Linked DNA regions of Homo sapiens: regions 2, 3 and 4 are each reported to be linked to region 1. Evidence: microRNA targets listed by miRTarBase, many of them from high-throughput screens and not tested one by one. Region 1 holds a microRNA gene; each other region holds the end of a gene's coding sequence.
Evidence for each region. Region 1 holds the annotated microRNA hsa-miR-769-3p (CUGGGAUCUCCGGGGUCUUGGUU, at 1,136-1,158, shown strand). A microRNA usually pairs through its seed, bases 2 to 8, with sites in the 3' UTR of a target mRNA and lowers its output. Matches are read on the target gene's strand: a 7mer-m8 pairs with bases 2 to 8, a 7mer-A1 pairs with bases 2 to 7 and ends in A, and an 8mer does both.

Region 1 (4,158 bases):
CAGTTAACCAGGGTTGGTAATGGCATCACCTCACATGTGAGGTGAGGGCTCTGTGAGGACATTAGGAGGTTATTTTGCAGATAATGAATGGCCAGTAGGTGTCAGGCCTTATTTTTCCCCAAGGTCCTTAGGCTCAGGATTTCCAGTGGGATTTAGGGGGACAGAAATAGAGGGACGGTGGGTGACCCCCTTTCCTACCTTCCCCATCACCAGAAGTCTCCCCCCGTGGAACGCAGCCACCATCAGAAATCTCTGGCCAACTCCGGGGGCTGGGTCCCCATCAAAGGTGAGCCTGGGACTCCACATCCCCTCTCCCAGCCCCAGGACCCGTTGGAATGGTAGTGCGGGCAGTGGTATATTGGGCCCAGGAACTCCCTGGGGCTTCAGGCCCCTCACAGCCCCCATACCCACACCTGCTCTCACAGAGTACAGCTCGGAGCACCAGGCGGCTGACATGGCCGAAATAGACGCACGCCTGAAGGCCTTGCAGGAGTACATGAACCGACTGGACATGCGGTCATAACGTGGAGAAGGGGTACTACCCCTCCATCCCCCACCCACTTGCTGGGTATGGTGTGGGGGGTGGGGCCAGGGTGGCCTCCAGCCCTGCCCAGTCCCTGCCCTGGCCCCGTCCCTCCTGCTGCCCCTGGGGTCTCAGGTGTGTGAGGCCCTGACCCTGCCCTCTCCCCAGGCAGTGCATGCTGGGAGGGAGGATGTGTGCATTTTGTAAATAAACATATTTGCCCTGGGGACCCCTCAGCTTATGACTAAAGGGTGAGGGTGGAGTGGGGAGAAATGTGGAGGAAGAGAAATTGGGGGGTATAATTGGGACCTGTGTGTCTGTGCCTCGGAGGCAGATTGGGACTCAGGCCTAGGAAAAGCTTGTACACTCTCTAAACAGTGCAAGGGCAGACCTGGGAGGAGTAGTGAGCAGCCCGTCCCTAAAGGAGTCCAAGCAAAGTTTCTGCGCAGGATGCCTTTGGCTGTGTGGTGGGAAGGAGGTGTCTTGCAGCGTGGTTCACTGCCCAGGAGGACCCCCAGGACCCACTGTTGGTGACATCCCGGCCGCCTTGGTGCTGATTCCTGGGCTCTGACCTGAGACCTCTGGGTTCTGAGCTGTGATGTTGCTCTCGAGCTGGGATCTCCGGGGTCTTGGTTCAGGGCCGGGGCCTCTGGGTTCCAAGCACCAGTGAGGAGAGTGCTGGGAGGGGAAGGGGTGGGAGGGCTTTGGTCTTGTGGGAGGGAGAGAAGGAGGGGAGGTGTGTGGTGGGACCTGCTGAGGAACACATTTTGAGCTACATCTTTATTGGAGAAGGAGACAGTGGGGTTTTTGGCCATGGGAGGGGAGGAATGGGGTGCGGATCAGCAGGGCCTCAGGGGGAGCGGTAGTGTGGCCAATTCTGGATGAGGTGGTAGAGCTGGTTGCCTGGAGAGAGTGTACGCTGCACATCCCGGTGTCCTTTGAGCACATAGTTGGACCTCAGGGCTCCCTGAGCCACACCGCAGGCCAGTAGACCCTGGGCTGCCCGGATGGCCTGGGGTGTGGGCACCCGATCTGGAGGAGGCAGAGGTAGGAGTCAGGCAGGGGCTTCCCCGAAGGGGAAGTGATAGCGTAGGGCCCCGTGTCAGCCCCCATCCCAACTGGCTGGACAGTCACTCACCCATGTAGTTGCCCATGAAGCTGATGCCAATGGACATGGGGTTCCATAAGTGACCTGAGTGGGCACCCGTGAAGTTCCAGCCACGGCCCTCGTATACGAGCCCGTCTTCTCCAATCAGGAAGCTGCATGGGGAGGTGGGGGGGCTTGATGAGTGAGGGAGGGTTTCCCGAGGAGGACTCCTCCTCCTTCCTCCACTCACCCTGCCTCCGTTACTGCCGTGGTGCACACAACTTCCCCAGCATCCTTCTCACCCGTTAATTTCCCACGATAGTAACAATGACTGTGGTCATTTATTGGGCCCCTGCCATGTGCCAAGCACAGCTCTGCATACACCTTTTTCCATCCTCACAGCAACCCTGTGAGTCACTATCACCCCCGTTTTATATAGACAGAATCAGAGCGGTAGAATCACCTGCCCCGGGGTCACACAGCCTGTCTGGGGCACAGCTGGGGTTTTTAACCAGGCCTCCATGGTCCCCACCCATGTGATCTTGTGCGTTGCTCTCTCCTGCCTCCCTAGAGGATTTGTGGAAGTCCTGTTTTACTGAATCCTTGCAGGACAGCCCTCTGAGGCAGAGACTTTTTTTTTTTTTTTTTTTTAAGACGGGGTTTCACTCTTGTTGCTCAGGCTGGAGTGCAGTGGCGTGATCTCAGCTCACCGCAACCTCTGCCTCCTGGGTTCAAGTGATTCTCGTGCCTCAGCCTCCTGAGTACCTGGGATTACAAGCATGAGCCACCACACCCGGCTAATTTTTGTATTATTAGTAGAGATGGGGTTTCACCATGTTGGCCAGGCTGGTCTCGAACTCCCGACCTCAGGTGATCTGCCCGCCTTTGGCCTCCCAAAGTGCTGGGATTACAAGCATGAGTCACCGTGCCCAGCCAAGGCAGGGACTCTTATCATCCTCATCTTAAGCAGAGAGAGCAGAGACTCAGAAAGCGACATAATTTGTACAAGCTACTCAGAGCCCCCTGCCTCTCAGAACTCTGCCTTTGCCCCAGCTTGCTTCCTGCCCTCGGGGTCCACTGGGGGACAGGATCACAGACTCAAAGTTGGGGTCGTAACCAGATACCGACCCTGGAGCCCCAGCACCTGCCTCTTTGAGGTTCCCAAGCCTGGCAGCAGATCCTTAAGGCTGATTCATTCAGCACATCTGATTGAGCGTGTCTGACTTGGCAAATGGGAATGAACTAGAAGATCAGTGCCTTGGAGCTGCAGTATGTGCCAACTCAGCCCCCGCGCTCACAGTGTCATTAATGACGCACAGAATGTCGGAACTTCCGAATCTTGAGTCCCGAATCTGCTGCTTAGGAAGCCAGCTCCCAGAATCTGGCCCCAGTGATGCTGGCTGCTGGGACTGGCTGGTTATGGCCCTGCTGGTGATGCTGGCTGCTGGGACTGGCTGGTTATGGCCCTGCCATATTCCCGGAGCCTGGCATGATGGTGCTGGGGTCGGGGGTGGTTGGTTCTCCCTGGTCATTTGTTGCATGAATGCATCTCATTGAAACCTCAGCCACCATCGCCAAGCGGGTACAGTCAGAAGCCCCATTTACAGGTGAAGAAACGAGGCTCAGAGAGAGAAGGTGACGTGACATGGAAAGGGGATTCAGAACGTTAGAACCAGATTCGGAATCCTAAAAGCTGAGGGCCAGACAGCGGCTGCTTCTGTATGTGGTGATGTGGACCCGAGGCTCGGGCCTTCGTGACCTCATGGGAACACTTAGGATCAGAGCGCCTGAGTCTTGGAAACAAAATGTTGAAGTTGGAGTCTTTGATAAAATCTTGAACTGGAAGGGCTGGGAATACCTTTGGACACTTCTAGACTTCTCTGGGTGGGTTTTGTGTGTGTGTGTGTGTGAGACACAGCCTTAGGAGGTCCTGAGAACATGTGTCCCCTGGGTGGGGTCTATTGAAGTGGTCTCTGGGGACCTGCATGTTCCTCCAATAAGCTCTGCAGGAGATTCTGATGCTTACCTGGGTCTGAGAGCCTGCAGGATTGAAAGTTCCCTCCCTGTGGAAACCGTCAGGCTGGACTGCAGCCCATTCTAAGGAGGAGGTAGCTGGTAGGCGTGGCCCCGGACCTGCTTCAGCCTGCTTCAGCCGGCACCCCTTACAGTCTGTTCTCCCCACAGCAGCCAGAGGGAGTCTCTTGTACCTACACTAGCCCTGGTCCCTGCTCTGCGGGGGGAAGCCTCCCATGGCTCCCATCTCGGAGTAAAAGCTACAGTCCTCACTGTGGTCCACAAAGCCCTGCCTGGTCCTGCCCTTTCCTCATTTCATTCCGCTCGCCCGGCTGTGTTCAGCCACCCTGTCCTTCCCACAGGACCCGCCCACTCAACCCCGTTGGCTTTGCCCCCAGCACCCCCTGCCACCTGCAGGCCTCTGTCTGCTCCCCCATCCCAGAGCCAAGGCAGCCACTCTCAGGGAGGCTTTCCCTTGCCCCACCCTTCCAAGGAGCCTGTGTGGGTCTGGTCCCAGCCTGAGGTCACCCTCCCT
Region 2 (4,148 bases), not on the chromosome of region 1:
GGTTGGGTTCAGACCTCTGTGGATCCAGAAGCCCTGGCTGGGGTACATGGTCAGACTATCCGAATGAATTAATTCACCAACAGACACATACGTAAACATATGCGTATACATGCCTACATACAAACACACGTATACACTGCCTTACCTGCACATATAAACAGATCCAGGCCCTCCCTAGCTCAGCAGCACAAAGCTCTTCAGCAATGTGCTAAGGCTTGGGACTGGGCCCACATATGTACCTGAAAACAAAGGGCATGAGGGTTTTGGAGGGTCTCTCTCTTCCCTCACCCCAGTAATTCCTCTTCACCAGGGGTTCCTGGGGGCAAATGGGGAGGAGCCAGATATGGGGCTCCAGAGGAAGTTGCTGGCCACTGTGTTTCCTGAGTTCAATAGTGTGTTTTCCTGCTTCTCTGACCTACCCCCTGCCCCCAAGTAGGATGGGGTCCAGGCCTGGCAATCTACCTTTTCCCTTGACTATCTCCCTCCATACACAAACATATACATACAAGACGTGAACCTACAAATACCCAACCGAGTCACACAACCACTGTCCCAGCAGCCCCATAACTCAACACAGTCGCACTGCTAAGCCACACATTTAACAACACACCCTCATTTACGGATTTATAGCCTTCACTCACACTCAGCAGTCACATCTTCTCTGCTTTGTTCAACATCATATCCCCAGCACCTAGAATGGGCCTAGTACCTAAAGAGGGCTCAATGAATAATATTTGAATGAATTAATTAACCAACAGACACATACATAAACATATGCATATACATGCCCACATACAAACACATGTATATACTCCCTTACCTGCACATATAAACAGATCCAGGCCCTCCCTAGCTCAGCAGCACATACATACACACACACTCAGGCTAATGGGCTAGATGTACACTCAGTGCCAGACACAGACCCACTGTAGATGTTACCTGGCACTCTCAGGGTGAGTTGCTGGTGGCAGTTGGCTGGTAAATGTCCTTCAGGCTGGCCAGATCTACAAAGGAAGAGTTGGGGGTGGGGTGCAATAGCATTCCTTGGGGTCCTGAGGCACTGGGTTATGAGAAGCTGGGCTGGCAGCAGGGCACGGCCAAGATAACTGTAGATTGGAGATTGGACAGGTCATACAGTCCCTTCCTCTGGTGTCTTCCTACCAGCTAGGGAGGTGAGGGTAGAGGTGCCAGTCTATCGGGCTTTATTTCAGGTCCAGGGAGAACTTAGGAGGGGAACAGTTTGAGGCCTCAGCTTCCCCTGCCTGGGATGACAAAGAGGGACACTGGATAGGGAGCTTTATGGGCACTAAGACCCCATCTCCAATCTACAGCGGGGTCTCCATATCTTCCCAGTCTGGAGAGTAGCAATCCTGCTACTCTCTTAATCCCCCACCCAGGGACCTTAGCACCAGGGGAGACTAATTTAGACCTCAGCTGCTGACCGGGCAGAGTGGACCACGCCTATAATCCTAGTACTTTGAGAGGCCAAGGCGGGTGGATCACCTGAGGTCAAGAGTTTGAAACCAGCCTGGCCAACATGGTGAAACCCTATCTCTACTAAAAAAAAAAAAAAAAAAAATACAAAAATTAGCCAGGCATAGTGGTGGGCACCTGTAATCCCAGCTACTTGGAAGGCTGAGGCAGGAGAATCACTTGAACCCAGGAAGTGGAGGTTGCAGTGACCTCAGATCATGCCACTGCCCTCCAGCCTGGGTAATGGAGCAAGACTCCATCTCAAAATAAATAAACCAACTAACCAACCAACATCAGCCAGGCTAGTAGACTGGGGGCTGGGTAGGGGTAGGAGTCTCCCAGGTACTCTAAGTACCCCAAGACCATCTAACCCAAGCCCCCTCCTGGGCCAAGTCCCCTCTCCCACCCCTCCCTCAACGGCATAACCCAAGGCAGTCTATCCCAGGAACCTGCCCCAGGAGGGCCACCTGTCTGGCTGCCCCATGACAGCTAAGGGTGAGAAGCAACAGTCCTGGGGTGAGAGGTGGGGAGCAGACTGAGAAAGCCAACTCTCCCTCAACTTTTGAGGGAGATGGGGCCAAGCTGGGACATCTGGGAACAAACTTTAGGGTCTTGGGTGAAGGAGAAGTGTAATTCAGGGAAACAACTTCAAGAGTGAGGGGAAATGTGAGGTGAGTGAAGGGATCCAATTCATAGTCTTAGGAACTGCAAGGATGGGGAAAAGATTGCCTTGGACTGAGTCATTATTAGGCATCAATGACCAACCAGGACACTCTCAAACCGAAAAGTCTCTTTATTGATTGGTACCATACATGACTCAAATGGCCCAAAAAAAAAAAAAAAAAAAAAAAAAAAAAAAAAAAAAAAAAAAGGCATTACAGTTGGGATGGGATGTCCACCTTCCTCACCCCTTCCCTCAGCTCCTGACTCAATACCCTTCCAAAAGTGGCAGCTGGAGTGGAGGAAATACGGTGTGGGGGACCCCAGAATCCAGAGGGAAGAGTGGGGAGAGAGGTGGTGTTAGCACTTCCTGGGACTGGCCACAGGAAAAGGCAGCAAAGCCACAGAGCTGGACCAGCTGCGTGAAACCCTGCTCCTGGCTGCACCCTGGCAGAGCCGAGGATCCCGGCTGCCTCCTCCTCCTTCCTTCTGTGAGGAAGGAGCGGCAGGGGATACTGGCAGGTGAAGACCCTCTACCTCTACCTCACCTATGGGGACAGAGGCCTGTTCCTCCCTGGTGGGCTTAGAACTGGGATGTCATCTGTGGCTCCTTCCCCTCTATGAAGGACAGAGTAGGATTACATATGCAGTTGGAGGGGCTGAGGGAAGATTCTGGAGGAAAGTGGCTGAGCCCCTCTCCCATCCCATGCCTGCCCAACTGAAACAAAACCAAAAATACAGCAACAAGGCTGCTCCCTTCTCTCCACGCTCCCTAAGGGAAGGAGCCTCCCCTCCCCGCATCCTAGACAGCTGCTCTTGTGGAGGACTTGTAAGGAATATACATACCATGGGGGTGGGGCTGGAAGAGAGGGAGTCACAAGCACTAGGAGGGCAGGCCAGAGTCCAGAGAATGGGGACACAGAGACAACAGCAGGGGTCTGTCACCAAAATGTGGCCACCAATGTCCCCCTACCCCATGGCATGCTTTCCTCAACTGCAGTCACCCCAGAGGAAAGGGGGAGAGATGGTGAAATGTCTCCTTGGTCTGAAGCTCTCACACCATATAAAATGGTATGCACACCTCCCTCCCCCACTCTCACCCCCACCTAGGCCCTAGGCCCCCATCTGCCAAGAGTAGGGAGGTAGCTGGACTTTTAATAGGGGGAAGAGGGGGGGACATGAGTGATTTTTTTTTTAACTTACATTTTTAATAATATTATTTTTAAAAAAACTTGGAGCTGGGATAAGTGGCAGCAGGGAGGAGGGGCCCAGAGCTTTACCCCTCTATTACCAGCTGCCTAGGGGAAGGAGCATTCAACGAAGCCCCGTAACTTTAAGTCCCTAAGGGCTGTGGGTATAGACAACCCCAGGCTTGAAAGGGGTAAAGTCAGGGGGATGGGAAACCCACAATCTGGGGTGAAGATGGAGGCAAATGCCCTGGGGGGTGGTCAGGACATGTCTCAGAGGCCCAGGTTCCAAGTAGGCATCCACATGAGTACCCCCTCCCCCTAAAAGGCTCTGTAGAGGCCAGGCCCAGCCCAGGGCCACTGGGGGGGCAAATCTTGGCACCTGCCCCCAGAGAGTCCAGTTCCTCCCTGAAGCGGGTGGATGGAGGCTGCCCATTTTAGATGCTCAGTCTCTTCATTCTGTCTTCTGCTCCCTGGGGCTGTGAGGGGTGGGGCAGGTAGGCAGAGCACTGGGTGGCCACAGCAGGGCCTTTTACTGGGAGGCCTGTGACGTGGGGTTCTCCGATTTGCTTTCTTGGCTGGACGGAGGCTTGCTGTTCCAGGGGCTGTTGGCGCCCAGTGCAGGGGAGTTGTTAAAGCTGTCCTCGTCGTCAATGCCGTTGGCTGCGTCAAACTGGGTGTTCTCCAGCCGGGTGATGAGCCTCTCGTCCTCGTCCCCGAACTCCCCGCCCATCAGGGTGGGCTCCCCCACCACCATCACATCCTGAGAGTGGCGGAGGTCCCCAAACATAATCGGGGCAAGGGCTCGCCCGGCCCAGGGCGGCAGAT
Region 3 (4,158 bases), not on the chromosome of region 1:
AGGTGAAGCTGGACTCACCCACCTGGGCTGCCATAGGAAAACGGAGGAGCTGGCAGTGCCCCGGCGCAGGTAGGGAGAGGCCCTCCTTACCTCGGTCATCAGGCGGTCGGCTCCACTGTTCTCCTCATCCTTGAAGATGATGTCGGGGTTGTAGTTGGGCACGAGGTCCCGGAAGCGCTCGGAGCCCCTTGCCACCCTCCCCTCCGCTGGCCCACTGGCGCCCAGGGTCCGCTCTGGCACGCCGGGCACAAATTGCTTGTAGAGTAGCGGCACGAGCTGCTTGCGCGCATAGCGGCGCCGGCCAACCGGCCCCCGGCCCGGCCCGCAGCTCTGGGCTGGCAGCGCCAGAAGTGCCAAGCAGCACAGGGGCAGTAGATTGGTCAGGAGAGCCATGGATACAGCGGACCTCGGCCAAAAGGGAGCGTTCTTGTCCTCACTAACTCTCCTGTCAGTTAGGCATCTCCACAGGCACCAGAGAGGGCAGCAGGCACAGCTGCCCCCAGAGTGCCCTAGAGCTCTTGTGGCTCCGTGCACCTGGCTGCTGCTAGCTCTGCCCACGTGCCCCGGGAGCGGGCGGGGGGTGTCTAGGACCTGCTACTGACAAACCATCATAGCAGGGAAGGGGGGTCGTGGGTGAGTGCCAGCCCAGCCCGTCTCTGCTGCAGGACTCTGGTGCTGCCAGAACGCCCGGACTCCGGACTCCGCCTTAAGTGGCCCCTGGCCCCGCCCTCCGCCCTTCTCCCAAGACCGTCCCACCCCCTCCCACCCGGGCGGGGGATCTAGCCGGTCACTGCTGGTCCATTTTGCGACTGAAGTGTGTCCCATCCTGGAAACCAGGCAGACACCTGCCTAGGAAATACTTGTAGCTTTACAGTCCTTGGCTGCCTAAACATCCTTCTACCTCCAAGCTTAAACTTGGAACCAAACCACCCTCCTCTGATACTTGAATTGGAATTTTTACTCTCTCAAAGCCTACCCTGGCAGGCCATGCCCTCCGCTGTCATCCAGGAAGTATGGGTTCCAATTTCTGCCCAAGACCAGCCAAGCCCTTTGGGCATACAACCAGAGCCTCCCTTCTCTGTAGTCCTCCCCAGATCTCCCCGACTTCCATCTCTCCTCACATTCAGCATTAAGCAGGACTGGGAGGTGAGGATACCAGGGGCCCATTTCTCTACTAACTTTGCAGTCTCCTTTGGAACTTCCCCAGAACCAGGAACAGAGCTTGGTACTTATTGTCTCATTTAGGACTTCCAACTTTTTTCCCCTTCTCTTCTTTGCCAGGCATCTAATAGCTGCTGTTTTTCAAATGAATGACTTCTCAGTTGGAAGCTGCTGAAGGGCAGTGGACACTCAAAAGTCTTTGTAAGAGGTGAGGATCACTTCCCTTAACCGTCCATCTAGGCACCTCTCCAGCTTTCTCCCTCTCTGGACTCCCGGGGCTCCATTTTCAGCCACTCAGATCTCATCTCAGAGGCACCACGTCCAATTTCTTTTGTTTAGAAGTCATTTCTTCTAAGAAGCCTTCCTTGATGTCCCAACACTGCCCACCTGTGTTCCCTCGAGAACCATTACTTAACTGCAGTGTTAGAACAGTATTAGAATTATCTGGCACCTTACTAGACAAAGCAATCTTAAGCACACACATATTTATCATGTATCTCCAAGGTTAAGTGCCTACTCTACAGAAGGGTGCTTTGCAAGCATTTGTGGAATCTACACTTTGTGTTTCATATTCACCCTCCCCTCACCACACTCTATGGCTAGTACTCATAGCAACTTTGTGTACATCAGAAAAAACCAGGCCAGGCACAGTGGCTCACTCCTGTAATCCCAACACTTTGGGGGCGAGGCAAGGACTGCTTGAGGCCATGAGTTGAAGACCAACTTGGTCAACATAGTGACACCCCGTTTCAAAAAAAAAAAATTAATTAGTGGGAGGTAGTGGTACATGCCTGTAGTCTTAGGTACTCAGGAGGCTGAGGAAGGAGGATCACTTGGGTGCAAGAGTTCAAGGCTGTAGAGTGAGCTAAGATCATGCCACTGCACTCTAACCTGGGTGACAGAGTGAGGACCCCCCCCCCCAAAAAAAAGATGGCTGGGTGTTGTGGCTAACCCCTGTAATTCCATCATTTGGGGAGTCCAAGGTAGGTGGATCACTTGAGCTCAGGAGTTCAAGACCAGCCCAGGCAACATGGCAAAACCCCATCTCTACTAAAAATACAAAAATTAGCCAGGCATGGTAGCATGTGTCTGTTGTCCTAGCTATTCTGGAGCCTGAGCTGGAAGAATGGCTTGAGCCCAGAATGCGGAGGTTGCAGTGAGCTGAGATTGCACCACTGCACTCCAGCCAGGGTGATAGAGCCAGACCTTGTCTCACAAAAAAAAAAAAAAAAAAAAGAAGAAGAAAAAAGAAAAAAAAAGCACCCCTTCCTCAAGATGACTGACATTTATTAGAAAACTATCATAGTAACTATCCACACAATGACTATGAGGTGAATGGTGTCCCTGGAAGCTGTGCAATACACAATCTGTATAAGCCTAAGTTTTGCGCTCTTACTCCCAACATAGCACATGGGCTTTTCAAGAAACTGATGGCCTCTAGTAAAAAGCTAGATTCTTCTCTCAGGTAGGAAATGAAAATCCTTGTCAGCCAGCCACTTATTTTACTCTATATCCAATAGTTAAGCCAGGGAGGATAGGGCTGAAGGTATGAGTGTATCGGGGAGGTTAGCCTACTCCTATGCCCATGTCCTACCCCCAATACTCAAGGTACAGAAACAAGGCCATGAATATAAGGAGGAGTCAGGGGACAAGCCAGCTTTAAGCAAGACTGAGGATGGAGGAGTTTCCCACTGCCCAACTGCATGGCCTAACACCAGATCCAAGTCCCCAAAGGATGGTAATAATATAGATGAAGGGGAAGGAAAAGGATGGTGGGCAGGACCCCTCTGCTTCTCTTACTGGGCAGACGCCGGGCTGGTGGGAGCAAGGCTGTTCAAATATACACAGAGACAGGTGCTTTAAAAAAACAAAGCAAACCCTGGGATCAACTTTATTGCTGATGGCTGAAGCCTCCTCCTCCCTATCCCCTTGGTCTTTCAGGTGGTCCAAAGCCCCTCCAGGATAGCACAGTGCTTAGGCTCTGCTGGGCCAGAGGCAAGGGAGACAATCTATCTCCCGAGCCTGCCCTGGCCCAGTCCTTTCCCTGCCCCTACCCCACCCTATTGCACATCAAATCATGTAAACATGGCTATGGGGATGGCCCAGAACAGCAGTGAGGCAGATTGATGTGTAAACAGATTTGGGATCAGGGGCTAGACCCAGTCACCCAGCCCTACCCCATGCTGAGGCCACAGTTAAGTATGGAAAAGCAGGAGGTCCTGGTCCCAAACTCTGGCTCAGATTATGCAATAGTGCAGATGGCTCTGCTCCCCTCTGCCACCCACCCTCTCAGATTCCAGGTCCTGAGGTCCAAGTAGCCTTGGGCTTCCCTCCAGGCCTAGGCAGCAGATGGCAGTGTCCAGTTTTTTCCTTCCCACCCCCAGCTGGAGGTCACTGGTGCTGGGTCTTCCTAGATGCCTGGGGGAAACCGGAGACGGGCAGCGGCAGTCTGTCCAGCCCTGGAGAAGAGGAGATGGGCAGTCAAAAGCAAGTCAAAGGTCCAGTCCGTTAGGGACCAGGCAGCCAAGCCACAGAATGTGTGGATGAGGTACGTTACCCACAAAGCAGGAAGCACACCCTCTCCCCTGCTGGGGTGATCCATGTTCCAGAGTGTCCTAGATGATTACCACCCCCCACTAGCCTGCACCCTCACTCCCTCTCACCAAAGGCCCGGATCAGCTCTGCCCGCACAGCTGCAGTGAAGGTCTTCACCAGACAGAGTGTGGTGAGGCCTGCAAAGGCTGCGTTGTAGAGGAACACAATGTAGAAATTGCCCAGCCAGTTGAAGCGTCCAAAGTCACCCAGCAGGTCAAAGCGAGTGAGCCCTGAAGCACAAAGGCCAGGATGAGAGGTGGGCTCCCCAGGCCCTTTTCTGCTACCAGCCCAACTTTCTGCTGCCTCCTGGTGGCCACATTTCAACACTGCAACTGATAGGTTGGCCTCTCCCAATTCTACCACCCAAGCTGTCTCAAGAGCAGTTCGGGACTGTTCTAAGTG
Region 4 (4,158 bases), not on the chromosome of region 1:
CTAGAGCAAAATTTATTAACTTTCCCATCGGAGAGAGACATATTGACTGGGGGAGAGAGTGGGGTGTGCGTGCTGTAGAAGATGGATGGCTGCGTGGCCATATCCTAACCTGTCCGCGAGGCAGTGCACCTGCAGCTGCCCTTCCAGCCTACGGACCGGGCCACCTGGGACAAGTGCACCTGGAGAAGCCGAGTCTGGCCACCCGGGATGCACAGCAGGCAGGTGGGACCTATGACATGGGGGGATCCTTCATGCATCAGGGGACACTAGCAAGCAATAGCCCAGAAAATCAAGTTCCTGGCCAATTCCAGGAAGGAAATGGCAGGATTCAGAGACCCAGATTTCCACAGGACAACAGGGTTAGTGCCCACTGTTTGCTGTGCCGTGAAGGTCACACGATGGCACCCAAAAATGCCTGTCACTGGTCTGGGAAGGGCATTTCAGGGATCTGGAGCACTCCCCCTGACCCCTCACACATCAAGCCTCTTCTCTGAAAGGCAGCACCAGGGACGGATTCTGACACGGTGAAGCATCAAGTCCCAAGGCTGGTTCTGCTGTCAAGGGAATCCCACTAGCTTTATTAAAAAGTTCCCTCTTGGCTGGGCGCAGTGGCTCACGCCTGTAATCCCAGAACTTTGGGAGGCCAAGGAGAGTGGATCACCTGAGGTCAGGAGTTGGAGACCAGCCTGACCAACATGGTGAAACCCAGTCTCTACTAAATACAAAAAATTAGCTGGGTGTGGTGGTGCATGCCTGTAATCTCAGCTACTTGGAGGCTGAGGCAGAAGAATCACTTGAACCCGGGAGGTAGAGGTTGCAGTGGAGCTGAGATTGTGCCATTGCACTCCAGCATGGGCAACAAGAGTGAAACTCCGTGTTTAAAAAAAAAAAAAAAGTTCCCTAACTGGTGGGTGGAAAGTCTCATGTTTGAGTAAAAAAGGCTGTCTGAGAACCACAATGAAGATACTGCCCAGCCTGAGAGCAGTATGGCCCCAGCCCCATGGCTGCCTAAAGCCCTTGAGGTCACCCTCAAGTGGGTTAGTTCCACTAGCCCTGATGTTTTAGAGAAGCAATGGATTCAAAGCTGACTTCCCGTATTTCCAAACCCAGAAGACTTCAGAGATCAAAGCCAAAGTTTGAACTATGGGCTTAAAAACAGAGAATTCAGAGGTGGACGAGGTCTCTGAGGTCATCTAGCCAAGTCCCTAGTTATGACTCAGGAGACGGATGCAGAGAAGTGAAGGTGCAGCAGGCTTGGAGGGGGGTTAGCAGCTGACCAGCACTTTCCACTCATTACACCACTGGGTGTCATTCCCAGCTCAGCCCCACCCTTGCTGGGGTAACAGGAGGGAACACATTATTTTGTACTTTGCATGTTTCTAAGTGTCTTGAGTTTTTGCCCCATAAGACCAACTCGGTTACCCCAAACCAGATACTCTGACTATGGGTCACTTGGGGCTTGCAGGACCCCTAATTTAAAAGGATGGAGCAGTCGCCTGGATGATGGTAAAAGGCATACACGGAAAGGGGAGGTTACGTTTCTGCAGGCGTGAATCAGTGCTCTCCTCACTGCCCGGCCCGCACAGGACTTCCCTCCACAGCACTGACTCCACGTGACTTCACACCAGGTGCGGCCACACCTGCCGGCAGGGGCCGCAGACAGCTGTGCTGAATGTGAGACAAAAGCAAAACCTGTGTGTGTGTGTATATATAAATACCTATGCAAATCACGAAAGTAACAAACCATAAAGTTTCAGATGAACTTTTTAAAAGAGAACCTGATCTTTTAAGACCAATTACTGATCCCTCCAGTTGGTTTACAAACACTGTAAACATCACCTATAAAAGCTGAAAATCACTTTTTATTCTTAAGCATTTTGTAAAACAGTTCCTAAGAGACTTATTAGTCATAACACTGACTTTATTTTTTCAGTCTTCATTTGAGAGCAAAAAGATTTCCCCCGGGCTGGCAACAGGGCAGGTGAGGAAATGGGAGGCTCTCCCAGGGAGGTCACAGGTAGGTGCAGAGAAAAGGAGATTGCAGGGCCAACCCAGCAGGTACCACATGCAAAGTGGATCTGTCTGCAGCCCCAGGAGCACAGCTTCACTCCCACCCACTCCCTGAACTGCAGGCCAGAGGGCGACCTTGGGGACGTGACACTCAGCACCACAGGCACAAAATCCTGAGAGGCATCATGACTGTGCCACGAGGGAGCATGGGTCCCAAGTGAGGGCTGGTGGGGCATGAATGGGGAGCTGAGGAGCATGAAACTGGTGAAACCCCAGAACCCACAGGGGCTGCTTGGCCTTGGCTCTGCCTCCACTGTGACTGTACAGCAGGCACCAGTGGCCGACTCTTTTCCTGTGGTGCCTGCTCTGGCTGTGCAGAAGCTGCCATGCAGCACATGCCCTGCCCACCCTGCCCCTCTGCAGCCCTCCCCTGTCCCTCCCCTGCAGAAGCCACCATGCAGCACAGGCCCTGCCCCGCCCCGGCCCCTCTGCAGCCCTCCCCGGGCCCTTGCTCCTCCCCCACCCTGGAGTTTACTCATTGCTTCCCCTAGGCCTCACATCAGCGACCCGCACACACCCCGTCTCTGGAGAAATCCACGTCTGTGCTGGAAATTCTAAATTAACCAAAGATCTGCAAGCATCTGAGACGAGCTGTTCACCTTCTGAGCTGCAGGGTTCCTCGCTCCAGCAGTCAGTTGGCTTCTCCGCAGCCCCAGGGCCATGCTCCCAGAAGAGAACGGGAATCCTCACGAGAAGCCTGCTACTCAGGGCCACAGCCAGGGGAGAAAGTAAAGGGAGAAGTCCCCCAGTTCATTCACCAGCCAGTTTTATTTACTCACAAGAACAAATCCAAAGCCCAGTGCAGCAGCTCTGAGCTCAGGCCTGCCGTGCCCCGTTTTGTGGGCCTGTACTTGAAACACTGAACGTGATGTGTCCTTCACTCACCCGCAGCACTTTAATCCCCACAACAGCCCTGTGAGGTAGGAATCACCACCATTCCCCCCGACTCATATTACAGATGGGGAAACCGAGACACACATTCAACAAAGCGCGCATCACATGGGGAGTTCAGGGTTAGCCTGGAGTACGAACACACGTTCTCCCCATGGCCCAGTCAGCGGCCCACCTGGCCTCTTCCCCTCCCTTTAGTAACCCCATCAGCAGCAGCATAAAAATCTAACCCTTCATTTTGCTGAAAGCCCCTGCAGATGACAGTTTCCTTCCTATCATGTCTGCAGAGCTCCAAGGCTGGGGGCGATGTTGAGGCCGAAGCCAGCCACAGTGCCTCAGCTGTGCCTTTCCTGGAGAGCGGGTGGCCGCCCCCAGCACATCCCTGGCACACGGGCTTGCATAACAGACTCTTGTACCGCCATCTCTAGCACAAGACCATGGCCACATCTCCCCAACCACTCAGCCCGCACAGCGTGCAAAGGTGGGGAGTTCACTTTAATGGCATTCCTCCAACGACTTATTGTAAAAGAAACAAGGCATCTCGTCCTGGGTCGCAACACCCAGCAGCATCCGTTTAGACCACCAAGGGTAGGCTGCGCCGGGTGCACAGGGATCCCGCTGCGGCTCGGCGAAAGCCGGAGTCCTGGGATCCAGAGCAGCCCGGGGAGCCCTGGAGTCTGGAAAGGACACAGCAGTGGGGGCGGCGGCGGCAACTCCAGCTCTGAGCCCGTTGGCACCCCGCACGGTGGCCCCAGCCAGCTGGAGGCAGGCTCAGGAGCGGCTCCTGTCCTTGTGGTTCCCCACGATCATCTTGCTGTACAGCTTCTGCTGCTCCTCCTTGAACGTGTCCTTCACCTTCTCCCTCTTCAGGCCCCCATCCCTGGAGAGACAAAGGCTGGATGTAGTAACAGCCAAGAGGGCTCCCAGCCACGCTCACACCATGGGAGATGCACCATGCTGCCCAAACACCAAGAAAAACCTGCCAGAAACAGGGTACCCCGTGGCACTCTCACCAAGACAACCTCAGGGGATTTGGGGCTCCGGGATCCCAATATCCACCCTTTCTATCTCAAAAGGTCTACCCTTGCCCTTGGGTGAGAATTTACTACTCACATTCAAGGTACTTGATAACTGCTTAAACCTACCAAGGAGTTTACAATTCTTTCTACTCTAACATTCATCTTCACCTCACAAAGG

Region 2: miRTarBase lists LDB1 as a target of hsa-miR-769-3p. Seed matches in the 3' UTR shown: 7mer-A1 at 2,355-2,361.
Region 3: miRTarBase lists LMBR1L as a target of hsa-miR-769-3p. Seed matches in the 3' UTR shown: 8mer at 3,302-3,309 and 7mer-m8 at 3,042-3,048.
Region 4: miRTarBase lists GPAT4 as a target of hsa-miR-769-3p. Seed matches in the 3' UTR shown: 7mer-m8 at 3,606-3,612.

Annotation. Positions count from the first base shown.
Region 1 is chr19:46,017,865-46,022,022 of GRCh38, forward strand. MIR769 (microRNA 769) reads left to right here and starts at 1,068; the gene lies at 1,068-1,185. It overlaps CCDC61 (coiled-coil domain containing 61), which reads left to right. Exons shown (of 14, transcript NM_001267723.2): 13 at 214-286; 14 at 426-752. The coding sequence ends at 523. PGLYRP1 (peptidoglycan recognition protein 1) reads right to left here. Exons shown (of 3, transcript NM_005091.3): 2 at 1,662-1,783; 3 at 1,289-1,555. The coding sequence ends at 1,374. RefSeq lists an enhancer at 3,797-4,158.
Region 2 is chr10:102,104,241-102,108,388 of GRCh38, forward strand. LDB1 (LIM domain binding 1) reads right to left here. Exons shown (of 11, transcript NM_001113407.3): 11 at 2,249-4,083. The coding sequence ends at 3,853. Among named protein-coding and RNA genes, the nearest start is that of LDB1, 14 kb to the right of the region's middle. RefSeq lists an enhancer at 3,280-3,781.
Region 3 is chr12:49,094,120-49,098,277 of GRCh38, forward strand. It overlaps LMBR1L (limb development membrane protein 1 like), which reads right to left. Exons shown (of 17, transcript NM_018113.4): 16 at 3,825-3,986; 17 at 3,020-3,620. The coding sequence ends at 3,553. It overlaps DHH (desert hedgehog signaling molecule), which reads right to left and starts at 682. Exons shown (of 3, transcript NM_021044.4): 1 at 91-682. The coding sequence starts at 393. DHH-AS1 (DHH antisense RNA 1) reads left to right here. Exons shown (of 4, transcript XR_007063295.1): 3 at 3-69; 4 at 1,282-1,625.
Region 4 is chr8:41,620,576-41,624,733 of GRCh38, reverse strand. GPAT4 (glycerol-3-phosphate acyltransferase 4) reads right to left here. Exons shown (of 13, transcript NM_178819.4): 13 at 1-3,841. The coding sequence ends at 3,733. Among named protein-coding and RNA genes, the nearest start is that of NKX6-3, 28 kb to the left of the region's middle. RefSeq lists an enhancer at 1,634-1,733.